3 linked regions of the Homo sapiens genome follow. The protein of the gene in region 3 interacts with the protein of the main gene of each other region in a pairwise test. Each region holds a gene or a part of one and is shown on either strand. Other genes may lie near its edges.

Region 1 (3,969 bases), on a different chromosome or scaffold from region 3:
GTCTCAGGGAAATGACCAGCTGGGAAAGTGAGAGTCCAGTGAGCGAGCAGAAGGGGTCTTGAAACTTCGCTCCCTGAGACCCTGGAAGAAGGATCATGAGGAAGGTTAAGTCAGGCACCCAGAGCCCAGGGGAGCCTCCATCGGCACCACAAAGTCACAGCCATCAGTCAGTGCTGATTGACTCAAGTCTCCAGAACACAAGATGGGGAGAGCAAGGTGGACCTGAGATATCACCTTTTCCAGCCCCCTTCTACAGCTGATGAGGAAACTGAGGCTCAGAGGGGTGAAGTCTCATGACCACAAGCAGGGTTGAACTCCTGGACACACCTCAAGCTTCCTTGACCTGTTCCTGGCATCTCCTTTCATTTTTCCTTTCTTCCCAAATTAACCTCTTTCCAACACAGCACTTCAAGTTCCCCTGGAACTTCATCGGTCCATCGGTGTCCCCTGGTCTGGAAGAGCACCGACCACTTGCCAAGGCCCCCACCACTCTGCTGCCATCACAACCACCATCACCACCATTACGAGAAAAACTTGAGACTGATGGCCCCCAAAGCTTAGAAGGAGCTGAGAGACCAAAGAATGACTCGAACAAGTCCAGCTTGGTGAGTAGGTGAGTTTATTGGGACTTACACACAGGTCAATCCTGGGCAGCGACAGGACAGCTCTAGAGATCTGTGCTTCCTCCCAATGCTAAACTGCTTTCATGCTAATCTTCTGACTGTTTACTTACCGGCTAAGAGCGATGGGACTGTTTTCATTGGTTGGTTCTCAGATACTCTCTGGGAAGTTTGGGTTCTCAGGGACACCTGCTCCTCAGCTGGGGATTGTGGCCATGGCCTACCACCTGCCTCTCAGGGTTCAAGCAGGGGACATGCACCCTTTAGTAACCTGGAGGGGACCCGTCACATGACAACCACCCCAACCACCATCATGAAGAAGCCACTGGCTGACTGTGATACACCCCCAGAAGGACAAGGGAGAGTGGATGCTGGAAAGACAGAGCGAGAGACCATCACCAGGGAAAGACTTTATTCTTGGAAGGACATCAAACCTGGGGGGGGGTCGGTAGTGGAGCTGCTGTTTCTTCTCCTGTATCCAACAGTTCTAACTCTGGTTTTCTCCATTTTCAGCTCTTTCTTTTCCTGGCCTTCTCATTGCTGGTTCCTGCAAGCTCCCCCTCTATTCTTCGCCCAATATATTCTTTAGTCCAAAGTAAACTACTTCTTCCCATTCCCCACACTCTCCAGTCCTCTCTCCTCCCTTATTGCAGGCTCCAGTGTTCCTGCCTTCTCCTTGGTGCACTTGCCATCTGCATTAACCCCTCCCTTGCTGTGCTCAGCTACACAAATGCCAAAGTCACTAACACTCAGTTCCATAAGCTTTACCTTGCCCTCCTTATCCCCCTAATAAAATGTCTGCATTTTGGCCAGGCGCGGTGGCTCACGCCTGTAATCCCAGCACTTTGGGAGGCCGAGGTGGGCAGATCACGAGGTCAGGAGATGGAGACCATCGTGGCTAACACAGTGAAACCCCGTCTCCAGTGAAAATACAAAAAAATTAGCCGGGCGTGGTGGCAGGTGCCTGTAGTCCCAGCTACTCGGGAGACTGAGGCCGGAGAATGGTGTGAACCCGGGAGGCGGAGTTTGCAGTGAGCCGAGATTGAGCCACTGCACTCCATCCTGGGCGATAGAGCGAGACTCCATCTCAAAAAAAAAAAAAAAAAAAAAAAAAAGTCTGCATTTTGTCCTGGCCTGTGCCCGGCATTTCTGCCCTGGTGGCTGCACTGCTCTGGGGTCATTGGTCTTGGCCTGGCTGCAGCATCTCATGGATCTTGGTGAGAAAGTTGAGCTTCCCCTCCAGCTCCTGAGCCCGCTTCTTCAGCTCCTCAGCTGACTCTGACTTTGCCCCCTCAAGCAAGTGCTTTGACTCATATGCAAGGCTGACCACATCCAGCAGAAGCAAGATGCCTCCAGTGGCTGCACCCACGATCATGGTTCCTCTGCTCATTGCCTGGGCGGGGCCTTCAACAACCCTCTCAACCTGTTCACCGCCTTCAGCTGAGATTCGCCCAATGACATGCGGGGGTGGGGCATACGCTCCTAACTGAGGGTTGGCTCTGGCTCGTCTGATGGCACGGATGTTCCTCCCAATCCCTTGTGTGACTTGGTACCAATTGTCAACTAAGGTAAGAACATTGGGTGTGTTCCCACCCACAAACTCCTTCATCACCTTTGCTACATTGGTGCCGCTTTGGTCCAAGTTGCGGGCTTGGGCTCGTGCCCGCAATTTGTTTACTAGTTCTACCACACTGCAGGTAATCCCAGCCACAGCAGCTGCTGCTCCCAGACCCATGCCAGTGTCCAAGAGCACAAAACTGATTCCTTCTGTGAAGGGTGCCAGACCCAGGCCGAGGAGGGTCAGGATGCCAGAGGTAGTGCCAACAGAGTTGGACACCACATTGGCAATGGTGGTGCCTCTGTGGACCTGCTCAACCTCCTCTGCAAGGGCACGGAGCTTCCTTATGTGATCCTCAAGCTCCCTTTTCAACCGAGGAAACTCTTTCAAAAACCACTGCCTGTGCTGCTGGTCTTTATCGTGGCGGTTTTTGTCCTTCATGACCATGTGACTTGCAAGCTTGTTCAGAGCTTTACGGAGCTCATCTGCCTCATCCCTGCACAAGGAAAGGTTAAAGGATTAAGAAATGCAGTTTCCCTATCTGTGAAATGAGCTCCATGCGATCTCTATCCTGTGTAAATTGCAGAGCTTTCACTATCAATCAAATAGAAACAAATTTTACAAATGGAATTAATTATCTTTCAAACTCAAACACATTTTGTTCATCATAGATATTCCTCAGTACTTATTCCATATGGAAATAAATATCTTAAAGGCACCTCAGATGCTCTTTCATGGTAGGTGTTTGATAAAGATGCCTCCTCACTCAAGGGCAGGTCAACACCGTGACTGCCAAAGTGTTTGGAGAGGGAAAACTCTGCAGATGAACAAAGAGCAGTGAGAGTGAGACAAAGAGACCTTATTACCAGGATGGCAGGAAAGTGAAGCATGAACTTTACCCAAAGAGAGGCCTTCCCTTTGTCCTCAGCTCCTGGGAAGTGATCTCCAGGCCCCTGGAATGTCCTGCCTGGTAGGAACATCTTTCTTTGCCTGGTGATTTGGCCACGGGACAGTATAGCGATGTGATGGATGATAGGGTTTGGGGCTATTTGGTGTCTTTCCTGACTTCCAGAGGACTTGGGGACTAAAGGTGTGAGATCTCAGGGAAGGGCTGGAGACTCTAGCCATGAGGGCAGCTTGTGATCCAGCCCCAGCAGATACTCTGGACACTAAGGCATGGGTTGAGAAAGAAGGACTTTCTCCTTGACCAACTCCAGCTGGGCTCTTCAGAGCTTCTTCTCCACTAGGCGCCGACCTTGGCCTTCCACACTCACCCACTGCTTTCTGGACTTGCACCACCTTGGCTCAGCAAGAATCTCCCCAAATCAGTTTAGGGAGGGTCCTCCCCGCTTGCTGTCTGAGCACCGTTTGTTATCTGATCATGCTCCTCACCCCCACCACTGGTGGTTGAGGGTCTGACCTGCCTTTGGCGAGAATCCTGTTAGGCCAGTTTAGCAGGAACCCCCCACTCTGGCGTCTCCTGTCAGTCCTGTTCCATCTCCCGCCCCCACCCTGGTGTTGGCTGTGACTCCCCCTCTGTCTTTACTATATTTGGAGCTGGGCTCAGTCTCCCTCCCCTGTAACAACAATCCTGAATAAAGGCTTCATTTCTGGTTTAATGTGATTCACAGGAATTTTTCCTTAACTGGGTGAGCTTCCCTGGTTGGCAACACCGCATGTGTTTTGTCCCACATTCACACAGGAGAACACAGCCTCCTGAGGACAATGAAGATTCACACCTGAAATCCTCCCAGACTCTGCCCTGTGTGTCTCTTCCTTAGGCTGATTTTA
Region 2 (3,650 bases), on a different chromosome or scaffold from region 3:
TAAGCAAAAGGGAGAAACTGAGAAGCTGGGAAATGTACCCTTATTTGAATAGCTGGAAGAAAGATCAAATGCATTATTTAATTTATGCAAGTCTTCCTCCTCAAATAAATAGTTGGCTGACATAAAACAGGAACAGCGTGTAACAGCCCATTGTCCAAATCTAGCTGACTCTGTTTCTGTATGTCCCACAAGTTATGAAATAGCTCTTATATTTTTAAATGATTTTAAAAAGGCAAAAGAATACTTTTTCATTACACATGAAAATTATGTGAAATTCAGATTTATGTCCATAAGTTTTATTGGAACAGCTGTGCTGTTTATGTAGGTACTATCTATGGCTTCTTTTGCACTGCAAAAGTAGAGTTGAGTAGTTGCAACAGACTGCAAAGCCCAAAATATTTAGTTCCTGGTTCTTTACAGGAAAAGTTTGCCAATCCTGACAAAGAATCACTGATGAAGAATCATAGTGGCCAAAAGTAACACTTAATCCTGAATACATATGTTTTTAAGAAGAAAGTTCAAAAATTGCCAAGACTTTTCAATTTGGCCTACTGTTACCCCTAAAAAGTGCTGCTGCAACTGAATAGCATGTGTTTTTGAGACTAAACTTCCAGCCTTTCTGTCTTGCCCCATCCAGGCAGGACTGCTCTCATCAATTTACAACATGAAGTGTTTTATTTGCACTCTGTGAAGGCAGAAGGAAAAAAGTGTCCGTTAAAAAGTGGCAGTTTAGGTATTTCAGTAATTCCTTAGCCCATCCTTTCTTATTGTGTAGGATAATGCTTATGACTCACAGTCAGATTCTCAGCAGAGGAAATCCAGTTATCTGTTGAACTTTACAATAATAAAATCTCAGTGATGAGTGGATTTATTACTCCACATGATTTCCAGTAGTGCTAAGGTTAATAGATCTGAAAGTAAATCAGCTGATGGGGAACGGGGACAACTACAGCCCTCTGGACTAATCAGCCTGTGTTGTCATCTTGGAAAGAATGTTTAACTGCCTTTCCAGAAACTTACCCAACAAAAATTACTACACAACAAATTTCATTTGTTTCATGGTTTGCTTGGTTTTCTTTTGTTTCTTCCTACAAGGTCTTTAGCCTTATTACTTTAGAACTTCAGGAGGCATATTTTAACACCTACTTCACAGATTTTTGTAAACATTATAAATACTCATGTATGTAAGGAGGAGCTACATGTGGCTAACATGTCATAGGAATTCATAAATGGTAGTTATTAGGAGTAGTAACAAAAGATACCTTCAGAATGAGAGAATTTTAAGAGTTGTATAATTTCATCTTTTCAGAAAAATTAACTTACACAGGAAATAAGCAGGTACAGAAACACTGCTAAATATATATTCAATGCAGCAGTTTCTAAGTGAGAAATTTGGACACAACAGATTTCATCATATAAAATGGAATTAATTAATTAATCTTTAATAATGATAAAGAATATGTGCTGATATGAAAAAATGTTCATAACATGGATGGGAGGGAGAAGATTTTAAATCACTGTGTATACCATTCTTTCATTATTGAAAAAATACAGGCTAGAAAAGGTTTAAAAGACGTATATCAAGGCAAAAAACATCCAGAGATAAAGTATAGATAATGTTTCTGTTTGTTGAGCTATCATTTCTAATTTTTATAGTAACTTTTGCTTTTAAAGTAAAAAAGCAATTTTAGAAAATGTATGTGAGTTTCCTGGAGGTAAGCCCAACTTGAATGTTCAATACAAAAATTCAAATGTACAGGCTTATGTCCATATTCAGACCCTTCTTTGATTAGTTAAAAGTTTATTCTACTGCCATTTTGGTAATAAAAGAAAAAAAAATACTCTAAACCAGGAGTCCCCAACTCCCAGGCCACAGACGGATCAGATCAGCAACATTAGATTCTCATAAGAGCACAAACCCTATTGTGAACTGCACATATGAGGGATCTAGGTTGTGTATTCCTTATGAGAACCTAATGTCTGATGATCTGTGGTGGAACAGTTTCATCCCAAAACCATGTTCCCCAACCCTTTCCTGTGGAAAAATTGTCTTCCACGAAACTGGTCCCTGGTGCCAAAAAGGTTGGGGACCATTGCTCTAAACTATGGCAAAGTAGTATTTACAACCAAGTATCATAGGATCCCTAATTTTTAGGAACATTCTCAACCAGCAAAATACCCACAAGTGGCCGGGTGCATTGGCTCACGCCTGTAATCCCAGCACTTTGGGAGGCCGAGGCCGGAGGATCACGAGGTCAGGAGATCAAGACCATCCTGGCTAACACGGTGAAACTCCGTCTCTACTAAAAATACAAAAAATTAGCCAGGCATGGTGGTGGGCACCTGTAGTCCCAGCTACTGGGGAGGCTGAGGCAAGAGAATGGCGTGAACCCAGGGGGCAGAGCTTGCAGTGAGCCGAGATCTCGCCACTGCACTCCAGCCTGGGCGACAGAGTGAGATTACATCTAAAAAAAAAAAAAAAAAAAAAAAAAAAGTCCACAAGTGTATTAACCAAAATATCACTATTTGTCCCTTTCCCCATAAAACTGGTAGGAAGGATTCAGTCCTAAAGTAATACATGGGAAACTTGAAGGAAATGAATTTCCTGAGATTTTAGTGAGTGAGAATTTCTTTTCTCTTATTCCCAGAAGTGGTAGATGACTAAGGGTTCATTTATAAGCCTGCTAGAGTTTAAGCCTCACCTCTGAGCTATGCATTTATAGCACAACATGCTATAAATAGACACAGCTGGAATTAAGAGGGCTTCCTCTGTAAAAACATCAGATTTCAGTCTCAGAACTCTAGTGATGCATTCCCAACTTAGATACTGTGTACCTTTTTGAGGGGTAACCAGGTGGGGAAGAATTTTGAGAGGTGAAGGTAGGATACTTTCATTTTAAAGTCATTAGAAAAATATGAAAGTGCCATTTTCCCAGTGTATACACTGATTATTTCTAGCCAAGCATTTGATATGTGAAAGACCAAATCCAGTTTTCAAAATGTGTACTTAATTCCTTGTTCCTGGTGATTTGCAATCCCATATACACATCTGGGGTTCTCAAAAACACAATGTGACATGGGAACTGACACAAAAAAAACTGGGCTGAACTTTTTGGCTTGTCCTCATGTAGATCATAAATGAACTTTTTGAGAGTCTTTGAATGTCCCAGCCTAGCCAGACTGGGGGCAGGTATGAAGCAAATGGCAAATTAAATTGTTTAAGAGGCTTTTGATCAAAAAGGGTAAATGCTATTTTCCCATTTTTCTTCATGAAGATACAAACACTTAAGTAAAATAGAAGGATTACAGAAAACTATCATCTACATTTACTGATCATTTTATCTGTATTCTACAAGGCCAGCCTAATAATCTTTACTTTCCACCGGTAAGGAAACTAAGGTTCAAAGAGGTAAAGATCATGCAACTAAGAAGTATCAGAAGTGAAATTCAAACATAGTTACTCCTCGTTCTCAGGGAATCTCAGTGTAATAAGGGATATAAATGCACAAGAAATTAAAATATTAGATTAAAAAATAATAAAAGATTAAAATCCTACATTGGAAGGTCAATTAAAAATAAATAAAAAATAAAAGATTAGACAAGATATAAGTGCCATAAGATAATTTTCAAAAAATGCTATCGAGATTCAA
Region 3 (3,650 bases):
ATTGGTAAACAAGGAATATTGATACCTACCTTGGAGAATTCTCAGGATCCAGGCCCCCATTTCTCCACCACAGCCAGGTAGCCCCCTCTACTCACTGGACCCAGGGACTCCATAGAGGCCATGCCTTCCCGCCTTGGGCTCTGGGCATTCCTTCCCCATCATTGCCCTCTCTCCAAGCCCCCCAACCTCCATCTCACAGTTTCTTTGCTGTTCTCCCACAGTTCCCCATCTTTGAGCTCAATCATCTGAACAAAGAAGAAACTGAATACCATGTTGCCTCCTAGACTGCCATGTCTAGCTATGCCACCTAAGTCTCCTCCACTCCTAGTCCCCTCTGCACTCACCCACTCTGGAGACAGCCCCTCCTCTTTGAATCGCCCAAGTCCTCAGCTTCCATGAAGTTACTCCATCTGGGTTCTCCCTGTGCCCTTGGCTGCTTCTTCCCCTTCTTGATGGTTTTTCTTCCTCCTATAGTGGACCACATCCCCTTTCTCAGCTTCAACTCCCCCCCATACACTGAAGGTTCCGTATCTCCAGCCAAACTCTCTCCCCAGAGCCATCTGACTGTCTAGGAATCATCTCTTGATGTTCAATGTTTTAGACTTAAGGGGCATTAGGAAGACTTAATACAGTAAGGTACACCGAGCTCCCAGCATGCTGCCTGGTCCAATAGATATCTGGCAAATGGTAGCCATTATTATTATTTGCAGTTTGACCCTCAGTACCATTTTAATAAGCAGAACTACTAATTTGAAAAGAGCAGATAAAACTCTCCCCCAGGAACTGAAGGAAGGATTGAAGTCCTTGCCTCAATCTCTGGGGTTAGTGAGTTGGAAACTCCACAACAATCACTGCAGGCCAGCCACTCTAGGAACTAGTTCCTAAATTCTACCTCCGAGTCCCCTGATTAGTTAATTGGTGTTCCAGTGATTACTTCTGTTGACAACCTTGGTGGCTTTTGGCAAGGCTGGGTCAGCCCAAGCAAGTCCAGACTTATTGTGGCAAATCCCACTGGCTTCTGGGATGTGAGACATGATCCCTGTATGGCAGAAGAAGCACCTTGTTAGGGAGAATTAATTGGGAGAGTGAATGCGGAAACAAGGCCCTCTCGGCAAGTTGGCTGAAGGCTTTGGTGCCATGGGTCCCAAACAGGGCTCAAAACACCCCATAATGCCCAGGCTAGCCTGCATCTTGTTGGGATCCACATAGCTGAGGAGGGAGCTCTGAAAATCATGCCTGTACCCTCCCTTCCCAGAGGAACAAAGACTTAACATGCAATGACTATCTTCTTCCCAATCTAGAGAAAGAGGCTTGGATTGCAATAAGAGGGACTTTGGTTAAATATGCAGAAGAACTAACTCCCATGTCTATTTGAAGTAGGCATGTGGGGAGAGGGGAGCCTGGGCTTTGACCTGCAGCAGCTGTGAGACCAGGGTGGCTCACTTTCCATCATTGCTTTGCAGCCAGAGCTGGAGGCCTGGGTGGGTGAATGGTAGGCATCTCCCCATTATATGCCCCAGAGGAACACCTGCCAAAGACCTACAGCTCTTCTAGACCGTTTCCTACCACCCACCACAGTGCAGCCCCCAGCTCCCTCTTCTCTTGGCTGTCCCAAGGTAGGTAAGGTGGTTGACTAGGGAGAGAAACTCAGCCACAGGAAATGATCAGGTGTAGCACTTCCTAGGGGCCTGGACTTGGAGTGTGGACCTCTGGTGTTTCCTCTCCTATCGGCACCTGACTTCTGCAACCTTGGGCTGGTCCCATGGCTTTTCTGGGCCACCATTTCCCCAGCAAAGTCAGTAGCAAGGTAAACTGGATGACCTTGAAAATCCTTCTAACTGGGAGGGTCTCTGATTCTGCATCAGTATTTTCTTTGCCCTGGGTCCCTTCTCTGTGCAGGCAGGTGGAGTTATGACAGCTACTAGAAGCACAGAGGTACCTATAAACACATGGGTGACTCTGGCCCTGGCCTAGGACCCTGGGCTCAGGCTGATTGCACAGACAGATGCAATGGCTTCAGGGAGTGCTGGGCTGGGACAGGGATGTCAGAGACCACTGAGAAATACCCGCCTTCCCTCTTCAGGGCTACTAGGCAACCCAGAGCCCATGGCTCCATTTGGAGTCCCAGGCTGCAGGTTTCCCAGGGTGAGAGGTGGGGGAAGGAGCATCCCAGCACCCATGACAAGGCTGGCCGCTGTGGGCATGAGATGAGGTCCTGCTAGCTTTAATCTTGGTGTGCGTTGAATGGTGTCCCCCAAGACAGGAGCCCCACTCCCACAGAGTCTCCTCCTCAAACTCTGGGGCTCTGGAAGGAAGCCACCCCATTTCTCACCTTCCAGGGCCTAAGGCGGGTCACCCCCTCCTCCTGCTCTAAGAGCCTGGGTCTCCAGCCCTCGCAGCCCCAACAGCCCCGGCCTCTTGTTTTCACTTCCCCGACTTGTCTCCAGGAGCCCTCACCTCTCCTCCACCTCTCTTGGGGCCCTGCCTGAAGCAGGTCCATGGTGAAATCACAGATTCAGAAGCGCCGCTTTCTGGCCACAGCCCTCGCCTTCTTGTGAGCTCAATGCAGACACCTCCTGGGCCCTCTTGGGTCTGTGCCTTCCCCTCAGCTTAGCTCCCACCTTCACTCCAACCCAGCGTGGATCCCGTGGTCCTCTGCTCCTCCGTGCTGTCACCCATCTCTCAGCCCCCCTCACCCCCAACCTGACAAAACCCCAGAAGAAAGGATCTGTGGCCCTCCCTGTACTGGCCCATAGCACCTCCTGGTGAACAGGCCCGGCTGCACTCCCAGACCACGTGCTGCTCAGCCTCCTCACCTCTCATTCTCCCCTGGATGTCTCACCCCTTCTCTGTGTCCTCAGACCTCTGACTTCCTGCCCCTTCCCCACCCTACTCTCTCCTGTCTGCTCAGTCACAAGAACACAGGAGCCATTGGAACAACTTCTTCAATTTTCCTACCCCTGAACCCTACCCCCAGCAGCATTTTCCTCCCACCCCACTCCTCTTCCACCTACTGAAGTGGGGAGGGGTCTCCCCGTGCCAAGGCTGATCCCCTCGTCTGTGCTCTGGTCCCCCCTCCTCTTCATAGACTTTCCCAAAATCGTCCTGTCAGCGTCCTCGACATCTCTCCTGGTGCCTTCTCTACTGCATTTACGCAAGCCCCTGTCTCTCCCATTTAAAACAAGGACAAATACATAAATAAAAGCCCCTCCTGATCCCACATCTTGTTGCGGCTGTGGACCTGTCTTTCTCATTTTTTCCCCTCACCTGTCACCTGGATCCCTTCTCTGGGGACAGGGTTTGGCTACGTTGCCTGAGACACTAATGGATACTCTGTAATCTCATGGAGTGTGACCTCTCAGGAGGGTCTGACCCTGTGGATGCCCCCCACCCACCCTGATCACACATGGCCCGGATCTGCCCTCACCACCCTGGCTGCTTGTCTTTGGACCCCGCCAGGGTGGAGGCCTCACCCACCACCCTCGATTCCAGCACTGTTGTCATGCTGGTAGGCTCTACTTCTATCCCTCCAGCCCAGGCGTCTCTCCTCATTCCAGACCCAGAGCCAACATCCCACAGGCTCCTCAACCCCGCGTGTCCATCCAACTGACCCACTGCCCTCCCTCGAACCTGCCCCCGCCTGGCTCCAT

The links.
Region 1: the proteins of SFXN5 (region 3) and APOL2 interact in binary tests that used the Homo sapiens proteins (3 or more experiments, as listed by UniProt).
Region 2: the proteins of SFXN5 (region 3) and STOM interact in binary tests that used the Homo sapiens proteins (3 or more experiments, as listed by UniProt).

What each region holds. Positions count from the first base shown.
Region 1 is NC_000022.11:36,225,607-36,229,575, forward strand, and holds the end of APOL2 (apolipoprotein L2), read right to left. Parts: intron 2,675-3,969; coding exon 1,798-2,674; 3' UTR 603-1,797; downstream 1-602.
Region 2 is NC_000009.12:121,360,225-121,363,874, reverse strand, and holds part of STOM (stomatin), read left to right. Parts: intron 1-3,650. UniProt on the Homo sapiens protein: Regulates ion channel activity and transmembrane ion transport. Regulates ASIC2 and ASIC3 channel activity.
Region 3 is NC_000002.12:72,956,636-72,960,285, forward strand, and holds part of SFXN5 (sideroflexin-5), read right to left. Parts: intron 469-3,650; coding exon of another isoform or gene 345-468; intron 1-344. UniProt on the Homo sapiens protein: Mitochondrial amino-acid transporter. Transports citrate. Does not act as a serine transporter: not able to mediate transport of serine into mitochondria.